Regions from separate parts of the Homo sapiens genome. Here regions 1 and 3 are each linked to region 2. The links come from fine-mapping of genetic effects on gene expression. A gene starts in region 2. Each other region holds a variant in brackets. All regions are shown on one strand. Distances are between the middles of the regions.

Region 1 (9,543 bases), 62 kb before region 2:
GAGTGAGACTCTGTCTCAATCAATCAATCAATCAATCAGTCAATCAACAATCCCTCAAATCACAATTTAAAACTCCTTATTGAGGTGGAAATAAGGAAAGAATTTTCATAGATTTTATAAAATAAAGAATAAGAAAATAATACATGATAATTTCTTAAGTATTGGCTTCTTTCATAATAAAGAAATTATGTTGAAAAAAATGAAAATGACATATACAGAATAAAGTAAGTTTATCACATAGCTTGTAGTAACAAGGAAAATGAAACAGTACTGGATGTACATTGTTACAGTTTTAGTATTAAACCACAATCAACATGCAACAGAGGAGACCCACAAAGGAATGTGAACGCAATGAAACTTTTATTGTGTATCATTATGAATTATGTAAAACTATTATCAACAGCACAATAAAAAATGCATGCAAGCCATTAAAATAAGCAAAGCATATCAACAAAGATTGAGGACATGAAATGGCCTTGTGTTCTCATTCAGTTGAAGTAATTACAAATTTTACTGGGCTCTTGGTTAAAAAGGAAACATAGTCGCCACAAGTATTTACTGAAACATTACCTATTTGCCTATTTATGATGATTTCATTCTTAAGATTCCTCAGTGGATCTAAAGGACAATGCTGCTACTAAACAAAGCCGTCCAATACATTTATTCTTATTCTCCAACTTTAAAAGGAAGCATCTTAAACATGAAAGTGCTATTCACTGCTGATAGATGAAATAAAGAAAAAGCAGAGTGAACATTGATATTCTGTAATAGGACAGACTCCACGGGATTGAGTGATCTTGTTATTGTAGTAACTAAGAGACCATAAAAATCAGGACACAAGACATTCAACTCCTGTTTATCTAGGAGAGGTAACAGGGGACGGCCAAAAAACATGGGATTATAAACTCTACAATGGCATTTTGGTTGGCATTTCAATTTCTTCTCATATTTGCCACATTAAATCAGAAGATAAAAGGTTTTTTTTTGTTTGTTTTGTCTTTTGTTTTTTTTTTGAGATGGAGTTTCGCTCTTGTTGCCCAGGCTGGAGTGCAACAGCGCGATCATGGCTCGCCACAACCTCCGCCTCCTGGGTTCAAGCGATTCTCCTGCCTTGGCCTCCCGAGTAGCTGGGATTACAGGCATATGTCACCATGCCCGGCTAATTTTGTATTTTTAGTAGAGACGGGGTTTCTCCATGTTGGTCAGGCTGGTCTCCAACTCCCGACCTCAGGTGATCCGCCCGCCTCGGCCTCCCAAAGTCCTAGGATTACAGGCATGAGCCACCATGCCTGGCCTCAGAAGATAAAAGTTAAAAAAAAAAAAATAGTTGATTTAATCAGGCCCTTTCCATTCCCCTGTGTGTGGCTAAAATGGAATTAAAGAAAAGGAAGGAGGAGAGTGCTGAATATAGAGTACCTGGAAAATTGACTCAAGGAAAACATGCCCACAGTGGGAAAATGGTCTCACGCAGTAATACAATCTAGAAGGAAATACCCATGGCAACCATCTCAGACCCCTTGCTTCCAATTCCTCACTTGCTGGTCAGCTCTTGTACTGACTTATGTTTCTCATAGCAAGTCACTTCCAGGCCTCAGGCTCCAGCTATTAAAAAGGGGATGGGTGTAAGGCACTGGACTGGACATCTAAGGACTGTTTAAAGACAATATGGAAGAACAATTCTCATATGAGCAGTTATAGTTTTCCTGCTGAGATTTCCTAGCAAGGAATAATTGCTTAGTAGTTAGAACTAGCAGTAGCAGTTTCAGTTTCAACACCAGAGGAAAATAAATACATTAATAAATAGTAGTGGTAGTGGTAATAATTAATGAATTCACATAGCAGTATACAAGACACTATTGCTAACTAAAAATGAGAAATGGGGAGAGAGAGAGCTGATAAGGCATGATTTCCCATTTTCAAAAACAGAAGAAAGGCATTCACAAACGTCATACAGTATCTATATATGGTGGCTAAAACATAAACAGTCTGTGAAATGCAATGGCTCATAGAAGAGCAAGACTCCCAGCATTGCCCAGAGCAGGTCTAAAGATCCAGTGAACACCTCCACCACACCAGACCACACTCACATACTCAGCTGTGCCCTCAAGTGCTCTTTCATCCTGAGACCAACCACCTGAGCCCCAGATCTGAGATTAAGCACAGGGGTTTGTCACGCGTTCTGATGCAGATGAGGCGTACCACACCCTGGAAAGTTGACACAACCACCACAGAGGGTTAAGCTGTGACCCGAAGCTCAAAAATCAGGTCCTGGTCGAAGACCTCTAAGAAACTGATGCAGCAATGATAACTTGCTTCACACAAGGAGGAGCTGGTATCACCTGATCCTAATTTTGGGCATATCATGTGGACCAAGGGACCTGGTCAATGTCACAGGCTCAGGATGACAGAGGACTGCATGCCAGCTTTCCCTGAACCCTGCTGTCAGGGTGGCATGCCCTCTCTGAGAGCTTTCAGGGCCATGAATCTCTCCAAAGCCATTTCTAGTTTCAGTCAATGACCAGCTTTGTGTGACTCTTCAAGCCAACCTGTGTCCAAACAGGCATCACATCCACATCTCATACTCACTGTTGGCATGAAGCATTTTCTTGTGGCCTCAGGAATTCACCTTCTGAAATGGGTAATAACAAAATATGCAATTTAGTTCTTTTTTGTTCACCTTGTTCAAAGTTAATATGATTGTATGATACTTTAAAGTGTCTTCAATTCTCTTTTTGTCATTGAAGCTGTGAGACTAAATTCTTGAAGTTTAGACTTTATAGGGGAACCTATGAAGGTGCAAAGTCTATTCATTTGAATAATAGTATTGTCTGAATTTTGAAGTCATGTAAGAGCAGGATAGTAACACCAAACACCTTTCTGATTTCAAATCATCATGTATCAAACATCAGACCCACGGTCTATCAAGCCCATCAAACCACTTGAAAGCAACAGGATAAAACTGAAACAGTGGCAGAGACAATCTCCCTACTTCATCTTTGAATTACTGTAACAGTAATAACCAGGTCTTTTCCAGTTATATATCTCTTCTCTGTAACTCAAATAAAGTACATTTATATTGAAAAACTCGGCCGGGCACAGTGGCTCACGCCTGTAATCCCAGCACTTTGGGAGGCCAAGGCGGGTGGATAACTTGAGGTCAGGAGTTCGAGACCAGCCTGACTAACATGGTGAAACCCTGTCTCTACTAAAAATACAAAACTTAGCCAGGCGTGATGGTGCACACCTGTAGTCCTGGCTACTCGGGAGGCTGAGGCAGGAGAATTGCTTGAACCTGGGAGGCGGAAGTTGCAGTGAGCTGAGATCGCATCACTGCAGTCCAGCCTAGCAACAGAATAAGACTCCATCTCAAAAAAAAAAAAAAAAAAAGAAGAAGAAAAAGAAAAACTCTACTACCACATATGAAGAAACCTAAATGACTGGAAGGCAACATCATTGTCCTCCACTCATTTTTAAAGTATTTTAGGAAATTCTGCTCTTCAATATTGGTGGTGAAACTGAAAAACGTGTTGACACACTCCTTTGTATAACACACATATCTGGTTTTAATGCAGACTTCCCTGTTCATGGTTATACCCAACATTAACTGAGCAACTGCTCAGTAGTAGAGTTTTTCAGGAACTAAGTCATTTGCATATATGATTTTATTTAATCCTTCTAACTCTAGGCAGTAGATACTACCACTTCCTCCACTGCACAGCTAGGGAATCTGGGTGTTTAGGTAACCTGTCGCAGGTCACTCAGCAGAATCAGGCTTGAATCCAGACAGTGTGATTCCAAAGCCCATACCCCTCACCACTTCTCGAAGCATTCTACTAATTTCTGTCAGAACTATGGGTCATTTAGAAAAGGTAACCATTTTTCCTTTGAGGCTCAGCCTCTTCACTCCTTGTCTATTCCTTCCACTTTCCTTCCTGCTTCCTGTCAGGCTGTCTAATGTATACCTTTGGATTTCCTCAGTGTTCTTTTCCGGGCACCGCGAGGAACCTGGCCTCCCTGTGGCTCCCAGTTGCCCACAGGGCTGAGCCTGCTGGGAAACCCAAGCCGCTGGCCACTGGCGACAGACACAGCAGCACTGCCTGGGAATTGTGAAGTTACTTACCTCCATGTACACATCGAGCTCCCAGACTCAGGTAAGACCACATCCCCTGACCCTTCCAAGGGATGCATTTATTTTCATGGTTACACAGAAGTGAGGAGCTCTCAGACTCTCTGAGAGAACTGCTGAACTTAGCAATGTAAACTCAAAGCAAAATGAATAGGTGCTGATCTAAGCTTTCCTTCTCTTATACTTACTCATACTCTAATGTGTACAGAGTAGGAAATTTTGGAAACTTGGGAGTAAAACCTGCTTCATTAAATATTTCTTTAGGGTTACTGGGAACTAAAAGTTTGGTGAAAATTTCTCTGGAAGCGCTTAGGGTCATTTTAAATAAATTATGAATTGATTAGCAGATATGCTGAATTTGTTAGATGCCTATATCAAGGGCTTCCGTTGGAAAGAAGCTGTCCTGTTTCTGCAGATTTTTCTGAGAGAATGTGAATGATGACATCTGACTGTTGCAGCAGGCAATAGCGCGTGGGTTCCCCAGACCCGTGTGTCCACCTTCAACCAGTTCCTTCACTTCTTCAAACCTCAGCGTCTCTGTAAAAAGTTGGGGCATTAACATTCCTCGCCTAAGGTTACTGCAAAGATCAAATGACATCATGTCTGTGAAAATGTCTCGCACAGGCACTGGAAGAGTAGACATTTCATAAATGGTAGTTTTATTTAATTTCATGTCATTTTAAGGGAGGGGCAGATGTAAAAGCTTGTTATTGA[G/A]AAATAAGGAAACAGAAGCCACAAATTTGTGGTCTGCAATTTTTCCTTCACATGAGAAAACTGTTCACCAAAGCTATATTTGCAAACAGGAATACCAGAATCTTTTACAATATTTCTCCCACTAAAACCTCAACTTTTAGTAATTGGACACTTCAAAGTTTGGCTATACAATCTTTTCCTGCAATATACATATTTACAATATAAAAATCAAGACAAAAAATACACAGTCTGAGTCAATAGGGAAGGCAGATAATCAGATGTAAATGTTAGGTTCCACAGCCTATCAGAAAAGAAATCATCATTTACAAAGATGATAAATATAGTGCTCACAATAAGAAAATTAGTAAATCAGAAACTCTACACAATAAAAAACATTTATGAAGAAGGCTTATGTGGAAAAATTACATTTCCATCTTTAAAATTATCTGCAAATTACCTAAAATTTCGTTTTCAGCATTATTTCCTTTTTTTTTTTTTTTTTTTTTTTTTGAGATGGAGTCTGTCTCCATTGCCCAGGCTGGAGTGCAATGGCGCAATCTTCGTTCACTGCAACCTCCGCCTCCCGGGTTCAAGCGATTCTCCTGCCTTAGCCTCCCAAGTAGTTGGGATTACAGGCACCCGCCACCATGCCCAGCTAGTTTTTTTTTTTTTTTTTTTTTTTCCTAGTAGAGACAGGGTTTCACCATGTTGGCCAGGCTGGTCTCAAACTCCTGACCTCAGGTGATCCTCCCGCCTCGGCCTCCCAAAGTGCTGGGATTACAGGCGTGAGCCACCGTGCCTGGCCTATTTCCAGTTTTTTTTTTTTAAGATTAATAAAATGGAGTCGCCATTGCTTTGTTCAACATTTCCCTTTGAGTAATAACATAATTAATCTACTGAAAAGAGGAGCCATGGGGGCTTATAAAGAAATGCTGTAATACATGTCAGCCCAACAACAACAAAATGTGCAACAGAACAGCCCAGAAAGAAAACTGAAATGGGAACCTCTGATAAGAATTTTTCTTTGCATGAGGCTCCTGGGCCTACAACTAAACAAGTATCGCACTGCCCAAGTAGCTGGAAGGCATTTCCTATTTAAAGGGTGCAATCACTAGAAAGGAGTTCAGGCCACAGTGACTGTCAGCAAGCTCAGATTACAGCAAAACCTCTGAAGTTATTTCCAAAACATAATCAGAGCTCTCCTCTGCACAGTCAGAGCAGTGGCAAATTCCTAGAACTGATTTTTGTTGCTGAGTTCAGCACTAAACAATCTCTGAGAAAGCTCAGATTAGCCAGGCTGAATAAACAAGAAACAAACCAAAAAAATTTCCAGTGGAGTTTCAGCCACAACTAAATGAGTTGTCCTGTTTTACCAAAAATTCATGCACATAGCTAAGCACTCTCCTCATCTTCAAAAAAAAACTATAGTTGTCCAACTTTCTAAAATTCTCTTAAGTTTGATAATGTTAAAAACAATGATAGTGAGACCTCCACTATTCTTTCCCTCAGATATACAAATAATATATCTAAAGCAAGTACATGGTATTTTGATAAAAATTGTCTATAGCCACACAAGCTGTATTATTTCTGCCCATGTTTTAAAAATTAAGAGTCTTTAGTTGAAATCCATCCTAATTACCCCAGCCCAAAGTATAGAAGAACAAAAAGTTACAGGGTTCTCTAAAAGCTTTTTGTTAAGAAACAAGCCCCATTTTAAAGAAAAATCTTAAAGGATCTATAGGAATAGATACAATTTCAGGAAGAATTTCATATCTTCAAGTTTATGTTTAAGAAGAAATACAACTGGTTAAATCAAATTTAATAACGTATTTATTTTAAGAATAAAATGCCCTCTTTTGTTGGTGCCAGAATTTGTGTTCATACTTTGTTGTCACTAGTGGTACAGATTCTCTTCTACTAAAATTTAGTTGAGGGTGTTTGAAAGACCTCAAATGGGCTTCTCTGGGTATCGTTTCTCAAGGCTCCCACAGAGTGAAAAACCAAACAGTCACAGAATAAACTCTTATAGAGGCAGTTATTCATTTCCTGAGCTAACCCACTTCCTTCTTCATACATTTCCTTCTCTTCATCAACGTGTTTTTTGAAATTAGCATTGAAATCATCTTGCAAAATATACTTTTGGACCTAGGGCCGGGATTCTAGGCAAATTCCAATGGCCATGTCATTTTTACATCATCACTGTAGTGATACAAAATTAGAACGCCAAATGAAGTGTCATGTCAGTAGTACAGAAGGCTCCCTGCAATGCTAATTGTGTTTCAGCAAAAGAATCTGAATCATTATGAACTAGATCCATACTGTGAGAAAACAAATGTTATTAAAAAAACTGAATGCAAAAAATTTCATGGTTCCTGACTACTCCATATGGAAAAGTATGGCATCTATCATAAGGAAATAAATTTTTTTAACCTTTCAAATCTTAGCGAAACTGTAATGAGTTGTTGGGTTTCTCCACTCTAAATACAACCTTGGAGATAAAAACTGGAAGTCTCACAATTATTAAATTTACCTATTTTATTAGACATGCACCTTCTCAATGATTATTGTCCTGACTTTGATCAAAGCTAACACAAGAAGTTGAACTAAAATGTGGCTCTCATTATTCTTCTGTGCTAATAAATATAAAATATAATTTAAAAAATAAAATCAGTTCTTACCTAAATATAAAAAGCTTTACTTACTTAACGACAATGAGTGATACCACAGAAACGGACAAAAGAAATAAAGTCTCTCAAAATGTTTATTTTTGTCAGAATAGCTGACAATTTTCTGTTAAGTATTTTGGTTTATTATTATAATAAGCATTTCCCCCCCTTGAAAAATCCATTCAAAATATCTCAACCATTGAGGTAAAGCATTTTAACTAAAAAAAAAAAAAAAAAAAAAATCCTAATTTGTTTTTAAAGAAAAAAAAAAATCTTAAAATTCCTTTTGCTTGATAAATAGAAATAATATCTTCTTGTTCTACTTTGGTGAACATAAATGTGCCAAGAATCCAGTCACTTACTGGCAAACCAAAGGTGGGAACAATTCATTTACACGTTCTACTCAAACACAGTGCAACACTGCCGTGTTCATATATAATTTTCTTTATAGTTACCAACACTTTTCTGGCAAAGACAAAGTTTTGGAATGGCAAAAGCAACAGAAGTTTTAGATCTCAAAGCTCCAGAAAGGAATTAATCTGAGTCTTCATCATCGAGATAGTCCTCGGCATTGCTTAATGTTCGAACTGCATCTGAAAGAAAGAGGAGGGAAAAAAGCAAAATAGGGAAATTATAAACTGCTCAGATTTTATTTTTTCATTTTCAAAGCTCTTAAATTAGAATAGAATCTTCCATCTGACCCAGGGATTGTACTTTCCCTGAGGATCTTTCTCTGCTTTTGCTTTTCAGCCTAACCATTAAGTTTCTGTTGCCACAGAGGCTGATGATGCGTTCCACAGTCATGCAGAAGTTTTGGTCCTAGGTGCCATGCATCCATTTCCAACAGAAAGGCCTAGCCACAGGCACCATGACCAACATGATACACCACCAGCAGCACTCCACTCTGACAACTGAGCTTCCAACCTCCTCTCCCAGTGACAGCCTGAGGTCTTGCCTAAAGGCAAAGTCACTAGGTAGGACGTTAACTACCGAAGGGGAAAAAGGAAAAGAAAGAATGAAAACAAAGAAGCTTCCATTTCAATGTAGAAAACACCGACAATAAAGCAAAAGGCTGAAATGGGGGGGAAAAGTTTTAAAATAGAGCTGGACCCCATCAAATGTTCAAGCAAACTTGAACAGGACTCAAAAGGAAGACATCTGATCTTTCACAGTCACCCCTTCAACTGTCTAGTCAAATTCCTATAGCAACAGATTAGCCCAAGTATAATTTTAGTGGGAAAAACAGAATGCAAACACAAGCACATTGTTGAAGTTCAATAAATATATGTCACAGCACCCAGATCTTCATGATCTCTAAGTATCACATCTCTGAAGCTTATTATACATATGACCGGTTCCAAGTATGGGGCAGGAAGTGTAAGGGATGGACCTAGAACCCTAGTCATGTCATAAAGCAAGCATCCTAACAAAGACAGCATCACGTGAAAGGGTCTGAGATTCAACTTAAAGAGGCCTCCACTAGCCAAAGATGGGCTATTGATAAAGCTACTAATTGGAATGGATTAAAGCACATTAAATATTTCAAGGCACACCAAAAAGAACTCATCTGTCACCCTTTGGAGGATGACAGAGACCAGCTTATTATTTTAAAACCTCTTAAATAAAGGTCAAAAATCAAGCATTTATCCTGCCCTTGCTACATTAACTGTTCCTCTGCGTAACAAAACAATTGATGAGGGAAAACTTTTCCTAATAGAATGTTCCAGCTAATAACTCAAAAAGAAGTGATTTAATTAGAATATCATCATTTTGTGCCGTTTAGTGAAGTAACAGATCTAGGCAACGATCATCAATGGATGTCACATCACAGGAAGAGTGACAACCAGGTATCATGTGCCCCTGATAAAAGAACACAATATTCTATATGATTTATTATTCCTTCTACTACCAAGAAAGATACATGATTAGGTAGGTAGGTAGATAGGTAGGTAGGTGAAGAGATGGATAGATTGAACCTAAATTGGATCAAACCTCTGGCTAGCTAGCTAGATTTGATACATAGCTAGGTAGGTAGGTAAGTAGGTAGGTAGGTAAGTA
Region 2 (9,571 bases):
GAAAGAAACCTGAAAGAATATTCAACCAAATGTAAATAGTGATTATCAGTAGATGACAGGGATGATTCCTATATTTTAGTTATATATTTATTGTTTACCTTTTTCTAAATTTTCTAAAAATAAAAAAATTATATTTTTACTTACAAGCTTTTTTAAAAAAAACAAAATGAATGAGATCAGCCATCCACTTGTAAATATGGGATACTCTAGGTAATATCTGTAGATACATACGTCTTCCCCATTAGACTCAGGACCCTCGTGAATGACACCATAGATTATTGTTCCTGGGAACCCCAGTGTCTAGCACAGGGCCTAATATATGAGCTACATTTATTAAGAAACATTTGTTTAGCAAATGAATTCTGGATATGGCCAAAAACCCAAACAAGGTAACCCTGATCTATCCTCCAGATGGTACAAAAATGGCCAGGGTCTCCCACTAGCATCTGCCCGGGACTTCCCTGGGCAGCCTCCTTCCACAAATCGGCCCCCTGTTGGGGATGTGCTGATCAGCCAGAAAGATGCTATTAGCCTGCATTATAGCTTAATGTCCCTTGTTTTTAATATCTTCCAGCAAGTCCTTTGTCCTTACTCACCTAGCTCCTTTCCTTTTAGTATTGTCTACTGAATTGAGCCATGCTGTTTTGCCCAAATCTTGCTCTGAAAGAAGCTGTAAGAAACATGGCTAGGATGTTCTGTCTTGTATTTCTGCTAGAGATATCCAGGCCACTCCAATACTTTAAGAGAACCCACAGGAAAATCTGTCTCAGATCTCAATGCCATTAAAATAACTACTTTTCAGAGTAAGTGACACATTTTAATTTTATGAGCACTATGAATCTTGAGATTTTTCTCTCTGCTTGCAGCTGAGAGCCAAATCTACAGTGACCTTACTACACATGCAGGTCTGTCTGTAAGCTAGCTTTTCCTCTTGTTTCATCTTACTATTCTTCCCTTCCTCTAGATGACCATGCTTTATCTTTACTTTTTCCTCTCTCTCAGATCATGTGTATTTTTAGAAGTCCTTTTGGAATGAGGCAAGGTTTAAACAAACCAAAAAATTAAATACAACCCCAAAGCCCCCAATCCCATGCTGTCTTTGGAGATTTTTATCCATGCAGCTTGCCTGCAGGACAAGAAAGTAAAGCTCCACACCACTCTCCTTGCTGTCAACCAGGGGCTGACCTTTATGTGCATTTGTGACAAGAAAGTCTGTAGACCAGAGGCCCCTCCCTTTCGACTTCCTGACCACCAGCTCTAAAATACACATTTGACCGCCAGTGTGAATGGAGCACTATGACTTAAGGCAGAATAGCAAATGGTTAAGAGTGCAGACTTTGGCCAGGCACAGTGATCCCACACTTTGGGAAGCGAAGGAGGGTGGATCACAAGGTCAGGAGTTCAAGACCAGCCTGGATCCTGTCTCTACTAAAAATACAAAAAAAAAATTAGCCGGGCATGGTGGCGGGCTGCCTGTAATCCCAGCTGCTCGGGAGGCTGAGGCAGAGAATTGCTTGATCCCGAGAGGCGGAGGTTGCAGTGAGCCGAGATCGCGCCACTGCACTCCAGCCTGGGCAACAGAGCGAGAGTCTGTCTCAAAAAAAAAAAAAAAAAAAAAAGTGCAGACTTCAAAGCCAGACTACCTGGGTTTTAATACTGCCTGCTACATCCCCCACTCTAACTGTTGACTTTAGACAAGTTAAATAACATTTCTGCGCATCTTTATTTCCCCATCTGTGCAACAGGAACAATATAATGGTACTGATCTCATAAGATTGTTGAGAGCAGCAAATGTGTTAACACGTGTAAAGTGACTATACCATTGCCTAACACACAGTAAATGTGGGACAGTACTACGATAGGACATTTCTGTTTTTGTTTTTTGTACTCTGTTGAGACGGGGTCTTGCTATGTTGCCCAGGCTAGTCTCAAACTCCTAGCCTCAAGCAATCCTCCCACCTCAGCCTCATAAAGTGCTAGGATTACAGGCATGGCCCACTGCTCCTGGCCATCGCTTTTTTTTTTTCTTCAACTAAGCTAGCCCACACAAAGTTTCAACTCTGATTGGCAGTAATGTTTCTCACTGTAAATTACTAAACTGGCAAACCCATTTCTATGGTAACTTTGTGTCTGGATCTCATTTGTAAATTAATGTTGATTCAAAATTCCCTTTATCCTGAATCAAGGACCAGATAAAACAAATTAAAATAAAATAAAATGCAAAGTTCCCTCTAAACACCTGTCATGTTTAACCATAAGCTTTCTGATGTGAAGGAGAAAGGAGGTTCCTGGGAATGTATCCACAATTAGTAACAGGATGACCCTTAAACCCCCAAGTGTGAATGAACCCACATGTATACATTACTGTGTACACACACACACACACACACACACACACACACACACCTGTCAATGTCCCTCCATTTGCAATATAGACAGCATTTAATACGCATGAAGAGATTTTTAAAAAGGGCATTCTTTAACGTATTTCAACTGGCAGCAGGTGATCAGAAAAAAATAAGATAAATAAAATATTGTTTAGCTATCAAAGAACAACTCTGCACTGTTAGATACTTAAGGTCCTGATTTGCACCTGAGTTTAGAAAGCTACCTCATACATATGCACTTAAAATGGAAATTTCTCATCAGATTCCACATCTAATGCAATGCAGAACCCAACTCTAGCTGTGCCCCATCTTTGCCCAGGGCAGAGCCAGTCTCAGCAACTTCCTTCACACTCAGCCCACCAAGATGTCAGTCCTCAGTGAAGCACTATTCCACATACGTACGTACATGATTATCAAATAAAGGGACTTCATACTCCAACTGCAGGAACGCAAAGAAACAAAACTAGATAAGTATGAAAGCTATAGAGTTTAGGAAAATCAAGGAAAAAAGTAATCACTGAAACTCATCTCTTGCAAAGAAAGTTACTTCAAAATTTGACGTAAATGGATTAAATTTCAGCATTTCGCTATACCGAAATTACACTATGGGAAGAAAAAACCCAAGAATACATCGGAGCCATTTATCTTCCATTTCCTGTATTTCCCTTAATTACCTACCCAAATGAATGCACGTAAGAGTTGTTAAAGTATTGAAATACGTCAGTCCTTTCTAATTACCTACCCAAATGAATGAGCGGAACAGTATGTTACAACTTTTAATTAAAATACGTCAGTTTCTTTTACAATTATCTTATTTCTGCATATCACAGAAAATATTCTAAGAACAGAGCAAAAATGAACAAGGACAATCCGCCCAGAAAACTGCTTTGAGGAATTTAGTAATCTCAGCCCTCTCAGGTTTAGCACGCCAACGTCTTTGGGAGAGCAAAGGCAAAGGAGATGATAAAATGACACTTCCAAATAGCAACAGCTGAGATCACTGCCGCATCCTAGATTCTTTCCACCAGGAGCGCGAGTATAGGGTTTTTTTCTAAACGCTCTTCCCAAGATCCCGAGGTCAATTTCAAACGCTGCTCCACGCTTAAGTCCCGAGGGAGGCTCGCTCGCCCACCCCACCCTGCAGGGATTGCACTTCCCGTTCGCTCTGGCCGGTCAGGAACCCTAACTTGACAGTGACAAACACTGAGAAAAGAGGAAGTGGCTAAAGATCATTTCATGACATTTTTTAAAGGGAGATCAATGGCCCTGTCTTTCCGGAAAACTTCCATGGGACGTTGCCATCACACCCTCTGAAAGTTTCAGCGAATGACAACGTAGCAAAAGTGAGGGCTACTCCCCTTTAAATATATATATATATATTAATCCTCGAAATCCTCTTGCTATCAAAATCGATCCCTCCTCCGTAACAGCGAACGCAAAACTAAGAGCGCCCATCCCGGTGGGGCCGATCTCGGAAGCCAGGCTCGGGGCCGGGTGCGCGCCGGGTCCTCCCTGCCAAGCTGCAGAGGAGGCGCCGGCACCGCGGCGGTCGCAGGACCTGGCAAGCGCCTACCTTACCTCCCTCACCTGGTTTGACTGGTTTGGGTGGCGGCTTCGACATCTCGCTTCCTGGAGCTGCAAATCCTAAAGACCCCGCCGAAAAGCCCACCGCTTGCCCGCCACCTGGCACTCCGGGCACCCCAGTTCTTTTTGTCTGGCTTACAACCGTGCGCCTCCTAGGACCGGCGCCCACCCTTGGCTGCGGGAAGAGCGGACGCAGGCAGAGCGGCTCCGCCGAGTGCTCCGCCCCGCCCCGCGGCCGCCGGAGCAGTCCAGAGCGCGCGCCGGGCCGACGAGGAAGTGGACCCCGCCTAGCCGAGCGCTAATTGGCTCCCGGGCTGGCAGCTTCGCCGCAGCAGGAGCGCGGGCGGCGCGCACGGCGGCGGAACCAGCCGGAGCCGAGCGAGGGCGAAGCGGGCGTGCGCCAGTGCAGTGCCGCGGGCCGCGCGCGCTCCCGATAGGGAAGGGCCGGAGCTGCGCAGGGGCGCGCGGAAGAGGCCAAGCTAGCCGGAGCCCCGCCCCGCCCCGCCCCGCCCCAACGGGGGCTGGAACCCGGCGCCGAGAGTAGAGAAAAGGGGCCTCTGGTGACCGCCCCTACCTGGCATCCCTCTAACCCAGGAGGAGCGTGGGGAAAGGGGCTGTGGGCCTCTCGGGGAGCGAGCTGCGGGTAGCGGCGCACTGGGTACAGGCGCGCGCTTGGCTGTCGCCTCTGCCGCTGTGTTTGGGAGGACTCGAACTGGCGCCAGGTGAGTGCGTACCTGCTCGCCCCTGCCGCGCCGCGCCGCCTTGCTGGGGCCTGGAGGTGTTTCCAGAGGGTTTCTGTGCTGGAGCCCGGGACTTGGTTGCGCCCTGAAAGCCTTGCCTGGACTCTTGCCACCCTCACAGAGCTGATAGGTGGCCTGCCGAGGAGGACGTGTACTCATGGTGGCGTGGTGCTCTAGCGCCCCGGAATAATCCTGAAAATGGGAACGCTGCCTCCAAGAGACCGCGCAGCCTGGAGAAGTCGCCAGGGACAGGATCAGGACTTGATCCTCGCGGATCGATATGGTCTCATTCCTCTAGCGTTGGGGTGATGACCTACTGCCCGCCTGCTGCCTGTTACTGTAAGGCCTGCTAAGAATTTTTTTTTTTTTTACTTTTTTTAATGACTGAAAAGAAATAAAAAGAAATATAATACTTTGTGACACGTGAAAATTACATGAAATTACGATTTCAGTGTCCGTAAAATTTTACTGGAACACGGTCACGCTCATTTGCATCTGTGTTTTCTGTGGCCGCTTTCGCATTACCCAGCAGGGTTGAGTAGCAGCTGGCAAAGCCCAAAGCATTTCCTGTCTGGCACTTTACAGAAAAAGTTTTCCTACCCCTGATCTATCGGATTGAATCTTCGGTGGGAGGAAAGAACTGGAGCACACAAGGAAGCCAATGGCATAAGTTCAAAATAACAGTCAATATTGTAAATTAATTGTATATTTGGGGAAAGAAAAAACTGTTTACCTAAGAACCTACATAAATGAAACCAATGGGGGAGGGGCATGAATTGCGTTTTCAAAAACCCCAGCCCTTCACGTCTGTAATCCCAGCACTTTGGGAGGGCAAGGCGGGTGGATCACGAGGTCAAGAGATCAAGACCATCTTGGCCAACCTGGTGAAACCCGATCTCTACTAAAACTGCAAAAAATTAGCCGGGCGTGGTGGCAGACGCCTGTAGTCCCAGCTACTCGGGAGGCTGGGGCAGGAGAATCACTTGAACCCAGAAGGCGGAGGTTGCAGTAAGCCGAGATTGCGCCACTGCACTCCAGCCTGGCAACAGAGCGAGACTCTGTCTTAAAAAAAAAAAAAAAACCCAGCCTTGAGGGATTTGTTTACCAAAAGGGAGCAAAGTTTAAACAATAGTAGGAAAAGACTGCCCTATCTCCTGGAAGAAGAGAATCAAAATAGCTGTTGGATAGAATACAGAGTAAGAAGTCCTGGAAACATTTTTCTCTTTTTAAAATATCAGACTGTCCTGTAGATACATTTGAAGAGCACATTTAGCTTTGTCAGCTGTCTTTCAGATCATTTGCGTTAGAGAGCTGCGTTAGAGAGTTCGTACAATCTGCTGATTCTGCACATGCCACTTCTGACCATTCTGCAGTTTAGAATCCAAAAGGCAAGTGTTTAGTAGTGAAATGAATTAAGCATAATAAACACACCTGAATTATTTTAAAAAACCCAACATTTTACTTAGGGTTAAAAAAAAGTGTAAAAAATAAAATTAGTCATTTCAGGTTTGCTCTTGGCTATCCTAGTTTGTTCTCCTGCTATGCAAAAGCTCTCCGCTGTTGAGGAAAGCCTTGCACGCACTGGGAAAATAAACTACACAGATATTCCATGAGATTGAAGGTGGTGTGGATTCTAGTGATAGACGTGCCCTGAAATGATGACTCTTTGGACACATCACATGATTTACAGTTTGTACGAAGCTTGCATTTGCTTCATGAAGCCTGGCAACTCAATTGCGAGCTTTTTAAATTTGATTTTTTGTTTTGTTTTTGGTTTTATGGGAGGCAGTTTTTGGGTTGTTTTTTGCCTGTTTGTTTTGGTTTTTTTCAAGATAGGGTCTCGCTGTGTCACCAAGGCTGCAATGCAGTGGCACAGTCATGGCTCACTGCAGCCTTGGTGATTTTTTTTATAGGGGCAACAGGCAATGAAATAGTAGAATGTGATGTGGAGGTGGACAGTGCCAGGCCTGAACTTGGAGCTCCCCTAAAGCTGCCCTGTGCATCCACACTGTTTTTGAAATAAATGCCTTCAGGGATTGCTAGGCCCACCCCCCACCCCGCCCTAGTCACTTAGCCCAGTTGCCTCTCTTGTCTCTGCATGTTCCAGTTACCCACCCTTCCCATCACATTGTCACTTGCTCATAGCTGATAGGGTATGCCCAGCATTTACCCAAACACTGGCTTGGACAGGCCCAGACTGCTAACTAATGTAGAACTGGGAGTTCCTGTTTTGGTTAAAAAAAAAAAAAAAAAAAAAAAAAAACTTACATTTGACTGTATCTGAGAGATTTTATAAGTAGGTTTTTTATGCCATCTTACTCCTGGTTCCTGAATGCAAGTAACCCCCTCAAGCCTATTTCCCATGCCACAACCATGCTCACTTGTTATTTACATGCCATGTAATTGATGCAATGGTCACACGTGTAACCACAGATGTGGCAGTTTAGGACGGGGACCAGTAGTCCTTTCCATTCTGTGTGCACAGCAAATAGATGCCCCATCAATAATACATCAGTAAGAATGACATCAATTATACATCAGAGCCTGACAATTAAGCTAGCACATACCTAACACCCTTTCTTTGCTGTTAGTAATAAAGTGCTTTTTAGCAGCTTGGAGTGATAGAAAGAAGTCAGCTCAATTGGTTTAGTTTAATATCTGGCTTTTCCACTTACTGTCTGTGTGACCTTAGGCAAATTGCTCTATTGTCTGAGCCAGTTTCCACTTATGCAAAATGAAGGGGTAGACCAAGTAATCGCTAAAGCTATACTTCTCCAAGTTTGAGAATTTATGCTTCAGCGAGCTATCCAAAAATAATGGGGGCAAGGAATGACAAGGTTTTATGAATTTTTATTTTATTTGGTAAAGTGAGGATATCACTCTACTAACATCTTCTGACAACATAGTTTTGTAAGAGAAAGAACATTTATCACCACAAAAGTGAGATAAAGAGCAGCCTCTCCCTTCCCAAAAAAAGGCTAATTGGCAGCATTGAACCGACATACCAAAAAAATAAGAATAGGGTAAAATAAAATTCAAAAGCAGAAAAATTACAACATAAAAATGTATTTTACAATATTCATTGTATGCAGTCATTCCCTCGATACATCTTGTAAATTTGGATGGAGATGTGTATTCAACAACATAACTCTGGATGAAACTTAAATATGCAACTTGTCTGCTATTTTATTTTATTTTTTAAGACAGGGCCTCACTCTGCCACCCAGGCTGGAGTGCAGCGGCTCAATCTCCACTCACTGCTACCCCCACCTTGTAGGCTCAAGCAATCCTCCCACCTCAGCCTCCGAAGTAGCTGGGACTACAGGAGCATGCCACCATGCCTGGATAATCTTTTGTATTTTTGGTAGAGGTAGCGTTTTGCCATGTTGCCCAGGCTGGTCTCAACCTCCTGAGCTCAAGCAATCCGCCTGCCTTGGCCTCCCAAAGTGCTGGGATTATAGGCATGAGCCACAGTGCCCTGCTGCTATTTTATCACAGTCATTATTGATTCTTGTCTCACATAGACTTGTTAATGGAAGTGGACCCCAGTCTTAAGCAATTGTACTCAATGTGGGATATTTAGATAAGCCAAGAAGTCAGACAACAATAGCCCTCTTCCCACCAGGCTTTTTTCTGCATAACCCCTCCCCAGGGAGAGTGTGGACACAGATCATAGAAACTGGAGCATTGCTGGGAGCCTCCAGCTTGGCAGGCAGCCGCTTGCCCCTGGCTACACGGCCTAGGTCCCTGGCAACCCCCCTGAGCAGATAGGAAGGAAGAAGAGTGGCCTTCAGGGATGACCTTCAGGAGCCACTATTCTAAGATTCCCTCCAGCTGTGCTTCACCTTTTCACTTAGTGAGAAAAATGGCCCATTGTAATAACCAAGGACTACTTTAGTGAACGTTAGGGAGGCATGTATGAAACTGCCCTCCATCCCCTAAACCAAAAATCCACAAAACAGTGGCCGGTGGCTTAACTTGGCCCTCTGCCTGAACATTTGCAGTTTCATGTAGAAAGCACAACAGAAATCCAATTAAGAGAAATGATAGCCCAATAAAAGGGAATTTCATTCTTGTCATTAGTAGACCTGTTAAAAAAATTATGATTATATGTTGAATTTCATCAAAAAAAATTGTGAAAATGTTTTTTCTCTTGTTATATAAGTCCATACATAACAACCTAGATTTTGCCTCTTGGCCCACATAGTGTCAAATATTTACTGTCTGGCCTGTTTCCAAAAAAAATGTACCTAGCCAGGCCCAAGACCTAGGCTTTTGGGTGAAGAAATAGTGTCTTTAAACGGCATTAGCTTCATTTTGCCTCTGGCCAGCAGTAACTTTCTTCTTGTCTCATAAGGGCAGTATCTTTAAACGGCATTAGCTTCTTTTTGCCTCTGGTCAGCAGTGACTTTTTCCTTGTCTCATGAGGGGAGAAAGAGGCCAGCCCACAGGGGTCCCTCCCTCACTGATAATGAGTCATACCCAGGCGACTGAATCGTGAAGGTGGAAGGCAACCTGGCTAAGGAGAGGATGAAACTTCATATACCACGCTGTGGCCTAGCAGTTCTTCCACGCCCAGAAAACAGACGTTCAAGGGGGAGTGCTCCGGCAGGTCACCTGACGTTGAACTGTTTGACAGTCCTGAGCACACCCCAGTGGTTGGCACTCAGTGGTAGCAGGGGAAGCCAGTGCGGCGGGAATGTGGATAATGCGGGGCTGGGCTGAAAGGTCACTGTCATCCTCCCCTCTCAGCTGGTGCTCCTAATTTAGGATTCTTTTATCTCCCTAGACATCTAAATGAAATGCATTTGATTTGTTTGTTTGTTTTTTTACTTTTAGGAAATATTAGGAAGCTGTGAT
Region 3 (11,191 bases), 160 kb before region 2:
CAACCAAGGAGAGCTGAGCTAAGCCTTGACCCCAAGAAACCATCCAGAAACAAAGCCAATCAATTAAACCCAACTTAAACCACAGTCAAACCCTCAAGGACATCAAAAAATATAAAAGCAAAAAGCCCCATCCAAAGGACAGCAACTTCAAAGAATAAGGAACATCAGCCCACAAAAATGATAAAGAACCAGTGCAAGAACTCTGTCAGCTCTAAGAGGCAGAGTGTCTTCTTACCTCTAAAAGTTGGCACTACCTCCCCAGGAATGGTTCTTAATCACACAGCAATAATGGAAATGACAGATGTAGAAATCAGAATCTAGATGGCAATTATGATTGCAATTCAGGAGAAAGTTGAAAACCAACCTGAGGAATCTAAGGAGTCCAGTAAAAGGATTCAAGACCTGAAAAAGAAAACAGCCATTTTAAGAAAGAAGCAAACTTATCAGATAAAGCTGAAAAACTCACTACAAGAATTGCAAAATACAATTAGAAGTATTAACAGCAGAATAGGCAAAGTTAAGTTCAATCTCAGAACTTGAAGGTCAGTTTTTTAAATGAACTCAGAAAAAAAATTTTTTTAAGATTTTTTTAAAGCATGAACAAAACTTCTGAGAAATATTGGATTATATAAAGAAGCCAAAACTACAAACATGAGTGTCCCTGAAAGGGAAGGACAGAAAGCAAGCAACTTGGAAAATATATTTGAAGATACTGTCTGTGAAAATGTTGCTAACCTCACTAAAAACATTCAAATTCAGAAAATTCATAGAATCCTGCAAGATGCCGTAAAAGATGACCACACCCAAGACACATAGTCCGATTCTATAAGGTCAATGCCAAAGAAAAAATATTAAAGGCAGCTAGAGAGAAGGGGCAAATCACCTACAAAAGAAACACCATCAAGCTAACAAACAGACCTTTCAACAGAAATTTTATGAGCCAGAACAGATTGGAGCTTATATTCAGCATCCTTAAAAAAAGAAATTCCAGTCAAGAATTTTATATCCAGCCAAACTAAGCTTCTTAAGTAAAGGATAAATAAAATCCTTTTCAGACAAGCAAATTCTAAGGAAATTCATTACCATTACACCTGCCTTAGAAGAGGTTCTTAATTGAGTGTTAAACATGGAAATAAAAGACTATTCTGGCCACCACAAAAACACACTTAAGTATATAGACCATTGACACTATAAAGAAACTACACAATCAAGTCTACATAACAACCAGTTAACACTACAATGACAGGATCAAATCCCCACATATCAATATTAACCTTAAACATAAACAGGCTAAACACTCCACTTGAAAGGGACAGAGTGCCAAGTTGGATAAAGGAGCAAGACCCAACTATATGCTGCCTTCAAGTGACCCACCTCACATGCAATGACACACATACACCCAAGGTAAAGGAATGGAGAAAGATCAAGCAAACAAACAAACAAAAAAAAAGAGCTTGAATTGCTGTTCTTATTTCAGACAAAAGAGACTTTACAATCAACAATGATCAAAAAAGACAAAGAAGAGCATTACGTAGTAATAAAGGGTTCAATTAAACAGGAAAATTTTAATGCTCCTGCATATATATCCATCCAATATTGAGCACCCAGATTCATAAAACAAGTTCTTAGAAACTTACAAAGAGATGTAAATAATGACACAATAATAGTAGGAGACTTCAACACCCCATGGACATTATTACACCAATCGAGACAGACAACTAAACAAAGACATTCAGGACTTAAACTCAACACATGACCAAACGGACCTAACATATCTATAGAACACCCCACCCAACAACAGAATATACATTCTGCTCATCTGCATATGGCATTTACTCTAAAATCAACCACATGTTTGGCCATAAAGCAATTCTCAATAAATTCAAGAAAAATTGAAATCATACCAACCATATACTTGGACCACAGCACAATAATAGAAATCAATACCAAAAAGACCTCTTAAAACCATACAACTACATGGAAATCAAATGATATGCTTCTGAATTACTTTTGGGTAAACAATGAAATAAAGGCAGAAATCAATAAATTTTTTGAATCTAATGAAAACAGATACAACATACCAGAATCTCTGGGACACAACTAAAGCAGTTCTAAGAAAAAAGTTTGGGCCAGATGCAGTGGCTCATGCCTGTAATCCCAGCACTTTGGGAGGCCAAGGCAGGCGGATCACCTGAGGTCAGGAGTTTGAGACCAGCCTGGCCAACATGGCAAAACCCCATCTCTACTAAAAATACAAAAATTAGTCAGGCATGGTGGTGGGCACCTGTAATCCCAGCTACTCAGGAGGCTGAGGTAGGAGAATCACTTGAACCCAGGAGGCAGAGGTTGCAGTGAGCCAAGATCATGCCATTGCACTCCATCCTGGGCAACAAGAGTGAAACTCTGTCTAAAGAAAAAAAAAGAAGAAGAAGAAGAAGGTTTATAGCACTAAATGTTGACATGAAAAAGAAAGATCTCAAATTAATAACCTAATCTCACACCTAGAGGATCTATAAAAACAATAGCAAACTGATCCCAAAGCTAGAAGAAGAAATAAACAAAATCATAGCTAAACTAAATGAAATTGAGATGTCAAAAATCATACCAAAGATCAACAGAACCAAACATTTGTTCCTTGTAAGAATAAGTAAGTTTGAGAGTTCTGGCTAGACTATAACAAAGAGAGAAGATCCAAATAAACACAATCAGAAATGACAAACGGGACATTACCACCAATCCCAGAGAAACCCAAAATTCCTCAGAGACTGTTATGAACACCTCTATGCACAAAAATTAGAAAATCTAGAAATGGATAAACTCCTGGAAACATACAACTTCTGTATTCTATCCATTTTTACCTTTCTATAAAAAACTACCTAAGACTGGGTAATTTATAAAGACAACAGGTTTAATTAACTCATAGTTCTGCAGGCTGTACAGGAAGCATGGCTGGGTAGGCCTCAGGAAACTTACAACTGTGGCAGAAGGTGAAGGGGAAGAATGAACGTTCTACATGTCCAAAGCAGGAGGAAGAGAAGAATGGTAGGGAGGTGCCACACTTAAACAACCAGATCTCATGAGAACTCACTATCACAAGAACAGCAAGGGAAAAATTCACCCCCATGATCCAATTACCTCCCACCAGGCCCCTCCCTCCAACACTGGAGATTACAATTCAACATGAGATGTGGGCAGGGACACAGAGCCAAACCATATCATTCCACCCCTGGCCCCTCTCAAATCTCATGTACTTCTTAGATTGCGAGATACAATCAACCCTTCTCAACACTCCAAGTCTTAACTCTTTTCAGCATTAATTCAAAAGTCCACAGTCTGAGGTCTCAACTGAGACAAGGCAAGTCCCGTCTACCTATAAGCCTGTAAAATCAAAAACAAGTTCGTTACTTCCAAGATAGAATGAGAATACAGGTATTGAGTAAATATACCTATTCCAAAAGCAAGAAATCAGCCAAAACAAAAAGGTTACAGGCCTCATGCAAGTCTGAAATCTAGCAGGGCAGTCAGTAAATCTTAAAGCTCTAAAATAATCTCCTCTGATTTCATATCTCACATCCAGGCCACACTGATGCAAAGAGTGGGCTCCCAAAGCCTTGGCAAGTTCCACCCCTGTGGCTCTGCCAGGTACAGCCCCCTTGGCTGCTTTCACAAGCTGGCATTGAGTGCCTGAAGGTTTTCCAGGCACATAGTACAAGTTGTTGGTGGATCTACCATTCTGGGGTCTGGAGGACAGTGGCCCTCTCCTCACAGCTCCACTAGACAGTGACCCAATGGGGACTCTGTGTCGGGCCTCCAACTCTGCATTTCCCCTCTGCACTGCCCTAGTAAGGGTTCTCCATGAGGGTTCTGCCCTTGCAGCACACTTCTGCCTAGATATCCAGGCATATCCATACATCCTCCAAAATTTAGTCCGAGGCTCCCAAGCCTCAACTCTTGCCCTCCACACACCTGCAGACTTAACACCACACCCTCTGGAGCAGTGGCCTGACATGTATCTGGGGCCCTTTGAGCCATGGCTGGAGCTGAAGAGGCTAAGATCCAGGGAGCAGTGTCCCAAGGTTGTGCAGGACAGCCGGGTCCTGGGCCCAGCCCATGAAGCAATTCTTCCCTCCTAGGCCTCTGGGCCTGTCATGGGAGGGGCTGCCACAAAGTTCTCTGAAATGCCTTCAAGGCATTTTCCCCATTGTCTTGGCTATTAACATTTGGCTCCTCTTTACTTATGCAAGTTTCTGCAGCCTACTTGAATTCCTCCCCAGAAAAATGTGTTTTTCTTTTCTACCACATGGTCAGGCTGCGAATTTTCCAAACTTTTATGCTCTGCTTCCCTTTTAAATATAAGTTCAGATTTCAGATTATCTCTTGCTCATGCATATGACCACATGCTGTTAGAAGTGGCCAGGCCACATCTTGAACACTTGGCTGCTTAAAAATTTTTTCCACCAGATACCCTAAATCATCTCTCTCAAGTTCAAAGTTCCACAGATCCTTAGAGCAGGGTCACAATGCTGCCAGTCTCTTTACAAAGGCATAGCAACAATAACCTTTACTCTAGTTCCCAATAAGCTCCTCAACTCCATCTGAGACCACCTCAGCTTGGACTTCATTGTCCATATTACTATCAGCATTTTGGTCACAATGATTTAATAACAAGTCTCTAGGAAGTTCCAAATTTTCTCTCATCTTTCTGTCTTCTTCTGAGCCCTCCAGACTGTTCTAACCGCTGCCCGTTACCCAGTTCCAAAGTAACTTCCATATTTTCAGGTCTTTATCGCAATGCCCAATTCCCAGTACCAGTTTTCTATATCAGTCCATTCTTACATTGCTATAAAGACCTCCCTGAGACTGGGTAATTTATTTAGAAAAAAAAAAAAAAGTTTTAATTGACTCACAGTTCCATAGACTGTACAGGAAACAAGGCTAGGGAGGCCTCAGGAAACTTGCAGCAGAAGGCAAAGAGGAAGCAGGCATATTCTACATGTGTGGAGCAGGAGGTGCTACACACTTTTAAACAACTAGATCTCATGAGAGCTCACTATTATGAAAACAGCCAGGGGGAAGTTCCTTCCCGTGATCCAATCACCTCCCAGCAGGTTCCTCCCCCGCCACTGGGGATTACAACTGGACATGAGATTTGGGCAGGGACACAAATTTAAACCATATCAGCCTCCCAAGATTGAACCAGGAGGAAACTGAAACCCTGAACAGATCAATAATGAGTTATAAAATTGAATCAGTAATTAAAAAAAACTACCAAAGCAACCCTAAGCAAAAAGAACAAAGCTGAAGGCATCACACTACTCAAGTTCAAACCATATTACTAGGCTACAGTAACTAAGGCAACATGGTACTAGTACAAAAAACAGACACATAGACCAATGGAACAGATTAGAGAACCAGAAATAAAGCCACATACCTACAACCACCTGGTCTTCAACAAAGTCAACAACAACAAGCAATGGGGAAAGAACTCCCTATTCAATAAATGGTACTTGGATAACTCATTAGCCATATGCAGAAGATTGAAACTGGGCCCCTTTTCACCATATACAAAATCAACTCAAAATTGACTAAAGATTTCACTGTAAATCTAAAACTATAAAAACTCTAGAAGAAAACCTAGGAAATACCATTCTGAACATAGGCCCTGGCAAAGATTTCATGATGAAGACTCCGGAAGAAATTGCAACAAGAACAAAAATAGACAAGTGGGACCTAATTGAACTAAAGAGCATCTGCACAGCAAAAGAAACTATCAAACAGACAATCCAGAATGGGAGAAAACATTCACAAATCATGCATTTAACAAAGATCTAATATCCATATCTATAAAGAACTTAAATCAACATGCAAAAATCAAGTAACACTATTTTTAAAATGGGCAAAAGTTATGAACAGACACTTCTCAAAAGAAAACATACAAGTAGCCAACAAACATATGAAAAAATGCTCAAGATCACTAATTATTATAGAAATGCAAATCAAGGCTGGGCGTGGTGGCTCACGCCTGTAATCCCAGCTCTTTGGGAAGCCGAGGTGGGCGGATCACGAGATCAGGAAATTGAGACCATCCTGGCTAACACGGTGAAACCCCATCTCTGCTAAAAATACAAAAGTTAGCCAGTTGTGGTGGCGGGCGCCTGTGGTCCCAGCTACTCAGGAGGCTGAAGCAGAAGAATGGC[G/A]TGAACCCGGGAGGCGGAGCTTGCAGTGAGCCAAAATTGCACCATTGTACTCCAGCCTGGGCAACAGAGCGAGACTCCATCTCAAAAAAACAAACAAACAAAAAAGGAAATGGCAATCAAAACCACAATGAGACACCATCTCATACCAGTCAGAATGGCTATTATCAAAAAGTCAAAAAATAACAGATGCTGATGAGATTGCTGAGAAAAAAAAATGCTTCTATATTGTTGGTGGGAATGTAAATTAGTTCAGCCATTGTGGAAAGCAGTCTGGTAATTTCTCAAAAAACTTAAAAGAGAGCTATCATTTGACCCAGCAATTCCATTACTGGGTATATACCCAAAGGAATATGAATCATTCTACCACAAAGACACATACACTTGCATGTTCATTGCAGCACTATTCACAACAGCAAAGACATGGAATAAACCTAGATGCTCATCAATAGTGGACTGGATAAAGAAAATGTAGTATATATACACCATGAAATACTACACAGCCAAAAAAAAAAATAAATGAAATCATGTCCTTTGAAGCAACATGGATGCAGCCAGAGGCCGTTACCCTAAACAAATTAATGCAGGAACAGAAAACTAAATACCACATATTGTCACATATAAGTGGGAGCTAAACATTGAGTGCACACGGACACAAAGAAGACAACAAGAGACCAGGGCCTACTTGAGGGTAGAGATGGGAGGAAGATAAGTATTAAAACACTACCTATCAAGCATTATGCTCACTACCTGAGTGATGAAATAATTTGTACAACAAACCCCAGTGACACAGAATTTACCCGTGTAACAAACATACACATGTATCCCCTGAACTTAAAAGTTGGAAGGAGAAAATAAATTAATAAAACGTACCTATTTTTTAGTACAGGTATTTGGTTAGAAAACTTTTTTAAAGGTTTGAATCTAATTGTGATATTTCCTTCCAGAAGTAGTTCTCAAATTTTAGCACACATAGAAATCACCTAAGAAAAGGAAGAGTGCTTTTCTGAAGCGATGCCTTTCCCATGAAAGCCAAACAAAATTCTAGCTTAAGAGAAACAGTGCAATTCAACACCCAGGGATAAGCTAGGAAACTGAGCCATATGAGGAATATGCAGTATTGGTTCCTGGCCACACAGCGTCACATTCTCACCCTAAGAGCCATTAAATGACATTTATGGTGAGGTGTGATCTTCCCTTACATCCGAATAAACTGAGGTTGCTGATAGAAATGCAGATTTCTGAGACTGGGACACATCCCAGATCTATTCATTCAGAAACCCTGGGGACTAGGTCTAAAATATGTATTAATATTTTAACAAATATTTGTGGTGACTTTTATTGACACTAAAGTTTGAATACAATCCCTAAAGGGAAGCTTCACAATTAGATTCATGTCATTCACAGCAACCTCTCCACCAAATGTATGCAGTTGGACTTCTGTGCCTTTTCAAAGTTATGGAACAGAGAAGTGACACTTAAGCAGAAAGAAATGAAACAAGAAAGACATAATATTGGGGAGAAATGCAAACATACTACAGGGGGTTCTGAGTCAGGAAGATTTAAAAATAAAAGTGATTTATAGCTAAGATAGGATACTATAAATGAAAACACTACATTCGAACTACTTTACAGAGATAATCATGGTGTTAAAAAGTGACAAATATAATTCATTTTATTATCATAATACATATTTTTGAAGATACAAATGATGCCATAAAAATATATTCTTAACTCGCAAAGGAGTCAGTAAGCCATTCCAATGTGCAGAATTCAACCACAGGCTGTTTAACAGGAACACAATTGCTAATCATCAAGCCTAAAAAGCAGAACAATAAATGTTCCAATCTGCTGTGGGTCAGCAACCAGAGAATAAATCTCACAATTTTTTTTTTCTTTTTTTTTTTTTTTTTGAGATGGAGTCTCCCTCTTTCACCCAGGCTGGAGTACAATGGTGCAATCCTGGCTCACTGAAACCTCCGCCTCCTGGGTTCAAGTGATTCTCGTGCCTCAGTCTCCTGAGTAGCTGGGATTACAGGCACCCACCACCACATCCAGCTACTTTTTGGATTTTTTTAGTAGAGACAGGGTTTCACCGTGTTGGCCAGGCTGGTCTCAAACTCCTGATCTCAAGTGATCCACCCTCCTTAGCCTCCCAAAGTGCTGGGATTACAGGCCTGAGCCACCATGCCTCGCCTCACTTTTTAACTGAGCAAGATTTTTACATGAAGGGAAAGTTTACAGCACAGAATTCAGGCTGGTATGGTTGGAAAGGAAATCTAATGATCACAATGAGGAGTAGGAAAGTACAAATCACAATTTGGTCTCTCCAGCTGAGTTCACCTACATGTATTATAGCCAGTAGTATAATTGACAATAACATAGATCATAGATGCTTTTGAAATGCTCTAGTTGAAAGGACTGAGATCATCAGACTGAACTTCCTCATTTTATAGATAAGGAAATTGGGCAAATAATTTAGCTTCTCTGGGCTTTAATGTCATCCCAACTCATTTGTTCTAAGGCAAGACTGCAGCCTGAATCATGAGACGTCTTCAGTGCTTTCTTCTATACAAATTCCCAAAATGTGACTACTCTGCTAAATGGTGATATAAAATAGAGTTGTTCATTGCATCTGTCTCAAAAGTCTAAAAATTCTACAAATTACTCTTGAGTCTCAACTATTTATTGAATAACTCCTATGTGTGGAATACTTTGTTAGATGTTGGAATTGAGAGAGAGAGAGAGAGAAAGAGAAAGAGAGAGAGAGAGACAGAGACAGAGAGAGATAAAGAGAGAGAAAGAGAAAGAGAGAAAGAGAGAGAGACAGGAGAGAGAGGGACAAAGAGAGAGAGAAGAGAGAAAAAGAAAAAGGAAAAAAGAGAAAAAGAAAAGGAGAAAAGAAAAAGAAACGAAACCTAGCAGAGATACTTTCAGGACAGGGTGACGGCTATGGTGTGTCTTCTATTTTGGATGTGTTGAGCTGCTCTTCCCTATTGGGCTAATTACAAGTTCTGAGACTCATTATTTACACTTTTCACCTGTTGTCTACTGGGATTTTCAAAAGAACAAGCAACATATTTCCTGAGGATCCCCCCAGCATCAAAGCTAAAGATTAAACAAATGAAATGTTTTAAAATTGAGCTGATATATCGGCTATTACCACTGCTATTGAATAAACAACGTTCAGGGGCCAAGAGGGTGACTGAAGTTGCCTCAGTTGTCTTTTCAGGAAGGAAAAGGGGTCCACTTTCACACTAGAGAATGCTTCTCTAAAATTTACTCAATGGGGCAACAGTTTACAAACTGTACAGAGCTCAAGAGTTCCAGAAATATGCTTCTTCTTGGATGGTATGTGGAGACAAAGGAGCTATGAAGTGGGGGTGTGGGAGGATCAAGTTCTGTTTTCAACTGAATCAGTTCTCTTATATAGCATATATATTTATATATTATATATATTCTTATATTATATATTATATATTCTGATAATATGTTATATATTCTTATAATATATAATATATTCTTATATAATATATATTCTTGTTATATATTATATATATTCTTATATTATATATTATATATATTCTTATAATATATTATATATTCTTATATATTATATATATTCTTATATTATATACATATTTTATATATATATATATATCAGGGTTCCATATAAGCTTTCATTCCTTCTCCCAAGAAAACATTTCTGCTGCCGCTGCTAGAAAGCATCTGACACATAACACTAACTCATCATGTAGATCAAAAATTCTAATTTCATAGAATGGCACGTATAACACTTTCAACAACCCAAACCCTTGTTTTGTAACTATATTTCATAGATATTTGCCTTCCTTCTCTATATATCAATACATCTTAGATCAGAAGAGTTTATAGTACTCTTTCAAGGAGACCAAAACAAAAAGAACACTGTTTAAATTGGTTTCTGTAGGTATACATGTAAACACAAAAATCCCAGATACCTATCAATCATCTTTTCTTTCTTTTCTAAAGAACTTGATTTCCTGCATGCTGGTACCTTGAAACCTATTTTAATTTAATCTTCATTAGTATATTTTCTATACAATGGTAATCATCGATCACTATAATATTTGGCTAATAAAAACATCAAAGGAAAATCTGTGTGATCTTTGTTAACACCACTTAATTAAAGGTCCTGTATTATCTGGGAGGGCCTCTGTGGGGATTTTAACTGGTGGCTCATTGGACACGCAGCTAGCTGAATAGATTGGCCCTTACTAAGACTGAATACAGCTCCATCACCGTTGAATGGATTAGTGGAATAATAATCAGCAATAAAATGCTATGGAGATCTGAGAAGTTAAATACATGGTAATAGTCATCCCAATAAAACTGTTCTGGAAATGACTAATGAATCATCTCAACTTAATAGTAATTCTGTCATACTAGGAAAGCAACAGAAATGGAGCCAAGCTGCACATTAGAAGCTACTTGAAGTCCCTGTGAACTGATGCCTTCTTAGGTTATGGCAGACAAGTTCACCCAACAAATATTTACTGCATGTCTGCTAAGTGCCAGACACAGAGGTGAGATCCTCTGTGTCACTATTCATGAAATGGTAAGAATTTTTATTTCTTTGCCCTGCTTCAATCAGTTCCCCCACCTCAGAGAGGCCCTCATTTTAGATCTTTCAAGAGTCATTCAGATCAGGAAAGTGACAGAGCTTGACTCCCCAGTTCTCCTAACAGTTCTGCAGCTCTGCTGACCACCTCGACTTGTGAAACACAGATAAAGGCATCAGCTTCCACTCTTCCACTGCTGCAACTGCCTTCCACAAAGATCTTCTCACCTGAACCTTAACTTGGAGAACTGTGGAAGAAAAGCTATAAACATCCAAGTCAAGAAGATGGAGAGACATGCCTGTAATCCCAGCACTTTGGGAGGCCGAGACGGGCGGATCATGAGGTCAGGAGATCGAGACCATCCTGACTAACATGGTGAAATCCCGCCTCTACTAA

What was found.
Region 1: its variant is fine-mapped to the expression of NMRK1 in whole blood (TOPMed, PIP above 0.99).
Region 3: its variant is fine-mapped to the expression of NMRK1 in tibial artery (GTEx, PIP above 0.99).

The regions. Positions count from the first base shown.
Region 1 is chr9:75,145,218-75,154,760 of GRCh38, reverse strand. It overlaps OSTF1 (osteoclast stimulating factor 1), which reads right to left. Exons shown (of 10, transcript NM_012383.5): 10 at 7,496-8,078. The coding sequence ends at 8,020. Among named protein-coding and RNA genes, the nearest start is that of OSTF1, 61 kb to the right of the region's middle. The variant G/A (reference allele first, on the strand shown) is at 4,841.
Region 2 is chr9:75,083,130-75,092,700 of GRCh38, reverse strand. It overlaps NMRK1 (nicotinamide riboside kinase 1), which reads left to right and starts at 4,546. Exons shown (of 9, transcript NM_017881.3): 1 at 4,546-4,693; 2 at 9,551-9,571. It overlaps OSTF1 (osteoclast stimulating factor 1), which reads right to left and starts at 4,187. Exons shown (of 10, transcript NM_012383.5): 1 at 3,975-4,187. The coding sequence starts at 4,008. RefSeq lists silencers at 3,797-3,886, 4,077-4,676.
Region 3 is chr9:75,240,082-75,251,272 of GRCh38, reverse strand. No RefSeq gene overlaps it. Among named protein-coding and RNA genes, the nearest start is that of OSTF1, 160 kb to the right of the region's middle. The variant G/A (reference allele first, on the strand shown) is at 6,198.